Regions from separate parts of the Homo sapiens genome. Here regions 2 and 3 are each linked to region 1. The links come from fine-mapping of genetic effects on gene expression. A gene starts in region 1. Each other region holds a variant in brackets. All regions are shown on one strand. Distances are from middle to middle.

Region 1 (2,761 bases):
TAAGGAAAGGAATCTGGAACACCAAGAGTTTGTGTAAGTATTTCAACTCTCAACCTCCACATGGGCGGTGTTTCGCCATAAATACTAAAAACACGTTTTGAACATGATCCCTGTATTTCAAAAGCTACTTATGAAGAAAAGTGGGACATGCATAGAAAATAAATGATGAAAAAAAAAAACAATGCCTTCTAATCCCTCCCCATGGGACGATGTTCAGTAACCAGTTTTAACCAAAGCAGGAAATACAGGAGATGGCGGGAGCGTAGGCAGAGAGCGGAAGTTTGCTAGTATCTACTTTGAAGTGTTTGAATGGACCAAGGCACGCTCTCTCCCGCCAAACTATAAACTCAGTCGCCCCAAAACACCAGCCTTCCAGCCCATCAGGTATATTACTCCACGTTTTCCTTTCTCCCGGCAGGTCCTCTACTCCCACCTCCCCCGAGAACTCCCTATTTGCTGGCTTCTCTCAACTCCCGCCACCCCCATCCCAGCCTACATTATGATCCACGCGCTGCTCTCACTTTCCGCCCTCCGCCTTTCCCGTCTGGAGTGCCTGGCCGCGCCCCCACCCAGGCCCTCCCCACGGCCCCTCTGGCTGGGAAGTGCCTGCTGCCCTTGGAAGCGAATACTCCCACCGCGCCCTCCCCCACCCTCTCCTCCGGCTCCAGGCCTTCCTCGGGAACCGAGGCCACGAGGTCCGCGGTTCACTCCCGCCCGACGCCCTCGCAAATGACTCCCGCTCGGTTCGGCCTGGGGGAGGAGGCGCCCTCATGGCTACTGCAGGCCTCTCCACCCTCCGGACTGGGCTGGGCAGCGGCCCCGTCGCACGCAACCCCCCGCGCCCTTGCCGGGCCGAACGGGCGCCGCGCTTCTCCTACCCGCCGCTAGTGAACCCAGCCCAGAGAGAAACAAAGGCTCGGGCTCCAGGACCCGCTCGGCCAGGCCAGCCCCGGCCCGCTCCCTGCCAGGACCCCAACAAAGCCCGAGCTGCCGCCTCGCGCCCCCGGCCTGGCTTACCCATCGGTCCCCGCACGCTTCTTGCCAGAGGGGTAATCCTCCCCTAGGTCCAACCGGTGCCGCTTGGACATCCTCGCACTCTTCGAACGGGCAGTTATTAAGGAAGAAAGCTGGCTGCTGTATGGGCACAGTCGAGGACAGCCACTTAACTCTGGAGGACCCCCACCCCTCCCGCTACTACAGCCCACACGGTGCGGCCGGAACCAACAGCTAAAATGGCGGCGGCGACGAGGGCTGGGCCTGCGCGCGCGCGCGCTTCCGCAGCGTGCGTGCGTGCGAGTGTGCGTGTGAGCGAGGTGCGCGCGCACGACGCCCAAAGGCGGGAACTCCTGTCCCGCCCGCTGCCTCATTGGTCCGACCTTTCTTGGGTCTCCTCCCTCTTCCTGTAGCTTTCCCCTCCTCGGAGCGGCTGTTAGGAAGAACCTGAAGGCCTTCACTTTCCATTTCAGGCTATCCTTGCCCCTCTGAGTCAAGAAATTGAGAAAGTCTAGTCCTAGTTAGGAAATCCTATTCATTTCTATTACCCCGGCTTTAAGGGAATCTCAGACCCAGAGAGGTTGAGAAACGAATGAAGATCGTACAGCTAATAAGTGGCAGAGCCGGGATTGGAACCCAGCTATTTAGTAACTCCAGATCTGGAACTTGCGGCCACTGCGCTACCCTCAGTTGCAGTGAGGGGCCGCGCGATGGTTCACGCCTGTAATCCCAACGCTTTGGGAGACCGAGGCGGGTGGATCACGAGGTCAGGAGTTCGAGACCAGCCTGGCCAACACGGTGAAACCCCGTCTCTACTAAAAATACAAAAATTAGCTGGGCGTGGTGGCGTACGCCTGTAATCCCAGCTACTCGGTAGGCTGAGGCAGGAGAATCGCTTGAACCTGGGAGGCGGAGGTTGCGGTGAGACGAGATCACACCAGTGCACTCCAGCCTGGACGACAGAACAAGACTCCGACTTGAAAGAAAAAAAAAAATCAATTGCAGTGAGGAAACTGAAGTGAGAAAATGTTAAGGCTTGTCATGATCTATTTTGCCCTTTTCTTGCCCAGCACGGACACCATGCACCCAAGCTATAGATGTTTTTAACTAGAATACAGAGAATTCGCAGTGAGGGCACAATTTGCTTTTTTGTTTTTTGTTTTTCTGTGCCTATTAATGCACTTTCGCAGTGTTAAATAACACCCTGCAAGGTAGTTGTTATTTTGTAGACGTAGACGCAAAGGCTGAGGAAGGTTACATCTCCTAGCCATAAGGGCTGTACCTAAAGCCATAACAAGGAGGTGGGGCAAGATGACTCTAAGGATTTTTGTGGATCTCTCCCCCTAGAATATGTCTGCTTCCTCAGTTGCATTTGTTCCCAGAAGAAATGCACAAGAAAAGATCTGTGGACCATCTGCAGCAGGGTGATCTCTGTTGTTCATGGAATGGCTTGGTTTGGCTGCCCTGGAAGACCATACTCTGGTTCTTATCCAAATCTCAGGACTGCAATTGCTAGGATTAAATGCAACTTAAATATTGCAACTGATGAGGGGTTTGTGTGTTTGTTTTGAGACAGTCTTGCTCTGTCGCCCAGGCTGGAGGACAGTGGTGCAATCTCAGCTCACTGCAACCTCCGCCTCCCGGGTTTAAGCCATTCTCCTGCCTCAGCCTCCCTCCTAGCTGGGATTATAAGCGCCCGCCACCACGCCCGGCTACGCGCCCGGCTAATTTTGGTATTTTTAGTAGAGACGTAGAGACGAGGTGTCGC
Region 2 (2,761 bases), 28 kb after region 1:
CAAAGATTGGACTGTAATAGATCCTGGAACGTGCCACCCAGACCTCCTTCAAGAATGAAGGACTGATTTCCTCAGCATTTGCAAGGAGTGCTGTCAGCAGATAGCCCTCAGTTGTCAGCCTCTCCAAGAATTTCCTCATCTGGAGAGCTACCTCACTCTAGGGCACATTCCCTCCCCCAGGATAGCCTGTGTCTAATGACTGATCATTATGGGAATGTATACCATAATCTGGGCCAAATTGAGAGGGCTGTATCCCAGCTTCAGAGTTCCCTTTGGAGTCAGCTTAGGCTTTTTAAAAATAACCTCACTGGCCAGGTGCGGTGGCTCACGCCTGTAATCCCAGGATTTTGGGAGGCTGAGGCGGGCGGATCACCTGAGGTCGGGAGTTTGAGACCAGCCAGACCAACATGGAAGAGACCCTCTCTCTACTTAAAATACAAAATTAGCTGGGCGTGGTGGCGCATGCCTGTAATCCCAACTACTCAGGAGGCTAAGGCGGAAGAATCGCTTGAACCTGGGAGGTGGAGGTTGCGGTGAGCCAAGATCACGCCATTGCACTCCTGGCGTGACAGAGTGAGACTCTGCGTCACATCCAAACTTTATCCTCTGCCCAATACCGCTTTATTGCCTTTTTCTCCACTGGTGTGAATCCCAGGAGTCTTTCACAATAAACTTTCTGCATGCTAATCTCAGTTTCCAAGACTGCTTCCCAAGAAGCCCAACTTAAAATACTAGGGTTGGTTTCGTTTTCAATTTGAATAACCTCCTAAAAAATTCTAGATGAATTGTCAGAGACTTTGAAAGGTTTAAGTTTTTGGCTGGGCGTGGTGGTTCACGCCTGTAATCCCAGCAATTTGGGAGGCAGGGGCGGGCGGATCACTTGAGATCAGAAGTTTGAGACCAGCTTGGCCAACATGGCAAAACCGTCTCTACTGAAAATACAAAATTTAGCCAGGCATGGTGAAGCATGCCTGTAATCCCAGCTACTTGGCAGGCTGAGGCAGGAGAATCGCTTGAACCTCGGAGGCAGAGGTTGCAGTGAGCCGAAATTGCACCACTGCACTCCAACCTGGGTGACAGAGTGAGACTCTGTTTCAAAAATAAAAAAGTAAAAAAAAAGAAAGGCTTGTTTTCAGTCATTCATTCAAGAAATACTTACTTTGCACCTATTATATATTAAGCACAGTTCGAGGTGCTAAGGCTATAGTGATAAAAAAGATAAAGAAAATTCCTGGGCTCATGGCATTTAAATTCTAGTGGAGGGTAACAAACAATAAGCAAGTAAATAAACAAATAGGGTAATTTAATAGATTGATGAGGGCTATAAAAATAATATAGGGCAGTATGATAGAAAGTGATTGGAGGTGCTGGAGGTATGAAGGACTACATCAAAAGTGGGTTGGGGAAGGATTCTCTTAGAAGATGGCATTGAGCTAAGACAAAATGAAATCAGGTGTTTTAAAAAACTGGGGAAGAAACTCCAGGCAGACAAAAAAGCAAGTAAAAGGAGGGAAAG[G/A]AGTGTGAGTGTGTAAAATATAGGTGGGATACAGTGGCTTATTCCTGTAATTCCAGCACTTTAGGAGGCAAAGATGAGAGGATCACTTAAGGTCAGGAGTTCAAGACCAGCCTGGACAACATGGCAAAACCCCATCTCTACCTATGAAATAATATATGAAAGAGGTTGTAATGAATGGAGGTAGTGAACAAGACGAAGTAAACTGAGAGGTCAGTGAGGGAGACAGGAGCCAGATAGTGTTGGGTTTCATGGATCATTGTAAAGATTTCAGATTTATTCTAATTTCAATTGGAATCCATTGGAGGATTTAAAATAAGGGAGCAATATTATCTGTTTTACTTTTCCATAAGTCACTTCAGCTGCCACTGGAGAGTCAACTACGGGGAAAGAAGGAAAAAGTGGAAACTATTGAAGTATCCAGATGAGAAATGATGGTGATAACTATGGTCTGAATGTTTCTGTGCCCCCAAAATTCCTTTGTTGAAACCTAATCCCCAACGAGACAGTGTTAGGAGGTAGGGCCTTCGGGAGGTGATTAGGTCATGCAGATGGAGGCTACATGAATGCCCTTATAGAAAAGCCTGAGAGAGATTCATCACCTTTTCTACCATGTGACAACATGGGAAGAAGGCATCATCTATAAACCGGAAAGCAAGCTCTCACCAGATATTGAATCTGCCAATGCCTTAATCTTAATCTTTTCAGCCTCCAGAACCGTGAGAAATAAATTTCTGTTGTTTACAAGCTATTCAGTCTATGATATTTTGTTATAGCAGCCTGAGTAGACTAAATCAGTGACTAAACCTAAGATGGTGGCAATTAAACAGGTAAGATGTGGTTGCACTTGGGATATACTTTAGAGGAAGAGACAATAGGACATGGCAATGTATTGTCACAGCAGAAGGTTCGAGAATAGAAGGAAAGGAGAAGAATATAGGATGTCTGATCAACGGGGTGGATCATGTAACTACTTACTGAGATGGGGAGGATTGTGGTGAGTGGAGTTGAAGTGAATGAATCATGACTCTACTTCAGTCATACTGAATTTGAGATGCTTATTAGACATCCAGAAGTAGATATCAAGGACTCAGCTGTGTTTGATCTTAGGGCTGGAAATGTAAATTTGGGAGTCATCAGCATAAAGATATATTTAAGAAATGGAAGTAGCTGAGATGACTTTATCCACATAGAGAAGTAGAGTGAGAACCAACCCTGGTGTTCTTGTATTCTTTCATTTGCCGTTAC
Region 3 (2,761 bases), 100 kb after region 1:
TAAGAGGTAGTGGAGCCAGAATTTGAACCCATGTCTGATAAGCTCTTGCTCCTTCCAAGATATCACACTGCAAAATAAGCAAGTTTAACCTACTCTACAATTCTCCTTAAGGCTCCCACAAGGACCAGAGGGCCCAAGACGGTTCCCCATCTTCAAGGTCAAAGATAACACTTTCTTCCTGGAAAGGGAAGTCCTCTCTCCAGCACCTCTGGGATCTTGGTCATCCCTGAGGTGCTCTGTCTTTATGAGAATTTTTCTACCCTGGATCTGTTTATGAGAAAGGGATAACAGTATAATTTAAAAATATATAGGAGTGGATGAGTGAAAAATAAGAGTCATCTTGGATTCTAGCTTTAGGAAAGGGGGACCAATTTATGAAAAGTTTGGGAGATGTGATCAGGAGAGCAAAGAATGGTTAGTTTACAAAGAGAATTAGGTTAACTAACAACCAGCTTCCAAAAGCTTAATTAAGTCTCTCAGCCCTCGAGTGAGTCAAGGAAATAATTGATTTCCACATTGCTGGTGGGGAAAGTGAGGAGGGGGAGGTAATTTGCCTGTGGCCAACAAGGGAAACAGCATTTGTCCTGGGATTAAAATCTAAGATTTTCTGGCTCTTGGTCCTTGGTTTTACCTTTGAATCTGGAATGCTCAAGGCCCAGAAGTGAGAATCCCAAAGCAGGACTCTCAACCGAGATGCTGTATGCAAATAAGGGACCAGATAATTAATGCTTCGCTCTTTAGTAATTTTCTGTCCTTCAAAAAGGTAATGCAAACAATGCGCCCCTGGTGAGTCAAGGCCGTGTGGGTTTATTTTAATAAGCACCGGCACTTTTCCTTATGAGGCGTGGCCATCACCCAGTGCAGTTACCTGTGATACTAGAAAATATTTGGAAATCTCAAAATATAAACAAATGTCTGGAAAAGATCAGAGAGAGAAAAAAATGAAAGAGAGAAAAGAAGAAAAGAAAAAGTAGTAACAGGAGGGGAGGAAAGCATTCTAGAAAAAGAGTAACTACTAATTATTGAATGCTTGCTCTGTGCAAGGAGCTTTTCAAATGTTTCCTCATAAGAATTCCACGAGGTAGGCATTTGATGACTTTAAATGGATGTAAAAACTGAGGCTTAGAGGGGTGAGGCTTTTCCCAAGCTAGGAAGGGGCAGGACCAGCATTTGAGTCCAAGTCTGTTAAGTCAGCCTTAACCACGGCCTGGTACTGCCTTCTGCCTATAGATCTGACCAGAAGAGAGCGGGAAGGAAGGGGTGTTAAAAATGCATCTGCTTACAGGCCAGGCGTGGTGGCTCACGCCTGTAATCCCAGCACTTTGGGAGGTGGGCAGATGGCTTGAGAAGGCTTGGTAGACCAGCCTGGGCAGCATGGTGAGAC[C/T]CCGTTTCTACAAAAAATACAAGAATTGGCTGGGGGTGGTGGGGCACACCTGCAGTCCCAGCTACTCGGGAGGCTGAGGCAGGAGGACTGCTTGATCCAGGAAGGTCGAGGCTGCAGTGAGCTGAAATCTCACCACTGTACTCCAGCCTGGGCGACAGAGCTAGGCCCTGTCTCAAAAAAAAAAAAGAAAAAAATTATTCATCTGCTTATTCATCTGCTTACTTGTCTGTTTTCCTCTGCTGTGTTGTAATCTCCTTGAGTATCAGAATCAAGATTTAATCCTTTGTCTCCCCAGAGCCTAAAGTAGTTCTTGAAAGGCAACAGACAATAAAAGTTTGATGCATGAACAAGCAAATGAACATCTGCAACGAGCCCAAGGCCAAGGGTCAAATATCTTGCCTTCTCTAACCCTGAAGTCATCTGTCATCTCTCTGGCTCTCAAAATCTAGGGAACTGGTTTGTCTTCCTCCATCCTCCACACACCCAATTCTATGGCCCGGGAAGTAAGTCCAAGGTCTTGTCTGGAACCTCTGGAAATTCCTGGGTTTAGGAACAGCCTTGTGCTCTCATTACCCCCCTTAGCCTCCTGACCCTGGTGTCTGTCCCGCTGTTCCCACTACGCCCATGAATCAAATCCTGACTCTGTCACTTGCCAGTTATGTGACCTTAGGTAAGTCAATTTTGGATTCTGGGATTCAGTTTCATCCTCTGTAAAATAAGTGCCTTGACTTAGATAAGGATGGCAAACCCAAATGCCTACAAGGATCAGGCAAATATTGAAAATGAGCGATGCAGATCGCCTAAGACGATAGGGAGTGGGGAAAACGGAAAAGCAGGCGGGAAAGGGCGCCCCCTGGCAGAGAGAGAAGCTACTACCCATCTTTACCTGTTATTACGTAGGAATGAGCGCTCAGTGTGGTCACATTTCCAGTTTTTTTTTTTTTTGGTAAGATGCGGGAAGTCTGGATTTTTATGTGAAATCTTTCAATTCTTAAATGTTGACACAAAATTTTTCAGAAACGCAGCGTGAGCCAAACTCAACACATCTGTGTGCCGAATTCAGCCCATGGCCTCCAGGATACAGCCTTTAGACCAGATGATGCCTAACATCTTTTCCACCTTTGAAAGGATTTGGCCTGGTGGCAGATCATCCCTTCAATCTGGATGTTTTTGGCTCTCTGGACTATTTTTGCTACAGTTTAAGCAGGGTGGACCAGGGCTTAAGAGTAACTGTGTTTATAAACACCCTGAAGAATTCCATATGGTATGCCGAATGTGAAGTTGGCTTAATTTGAAAAGATTAAATGTACTCAGGCAATTGCAGAGTTGTCTGTTTTGCAAATCAATGCAATTTGTCGGTACAGGCCGGGAAGGAAT

Direction of the effects. Positions count from the first base shown, and alleles are read on the strand shown. Sizes are in standard deviations (SD) of each study's normalised expression. Not every link is listed here.
For the expression in sun-exposed skin of the gene that starts at base 1,249 in region 1, C is the low allele of the variant in region 3 and T is the other (small effect, 0.26 SD a copy in GTEx).

Evidence for each region. PIP is the estimated chance that this variant, and not a neighbour inherited with it, causes the effect.
Region 2: its variant is the best candidate, but not a certain one, in a credible set for the expression of DHX15 in whole blood (TOPMed, PIP 0.55).
Region 3: its variant is the best candidate, but not a certain one, in a credible set for the expression of DHX15 in sun-exposed skin (GTEx, PIP 0.54).

Annotation. Positions count from the first base shown.
Region 1 is chr4:24,583,306-24,586,066 of GRCh38, forward strand. It overlaps DHX15 (DEAH-box helicase 15), which reads right to left and starts at 1,249. Exons shown (of 14, transcript NM_001358.3): 1 at 1,018-1,249. The coding sequence starts at 1,088. RefSeq lists silencers at 508-557, 758-837, 848-967 and an enhancer at 1,148-1,687.
Region 2 is chr4:24,611,145-24,613,905 of GRCh38, forward strand. No RefSeq gene overlaps it. Among named protein-coding and RNA genes, the nearest start is that of DHX15, 28 kb to the left of the region's middle. The variant G/A (reference allele first, on the strand shown) is at 1,517.
Region 3 is chr4:24,685,320-24,688,080 of GRCh38, forward strand. No RefSeq gene overlaps it. Among named protein-coding and RNA genes, the nearest start is that of LINC02473, 27 kb to the left of the region's middle. The variant C/T (reference allele first, on the strand shown) is at 1,385.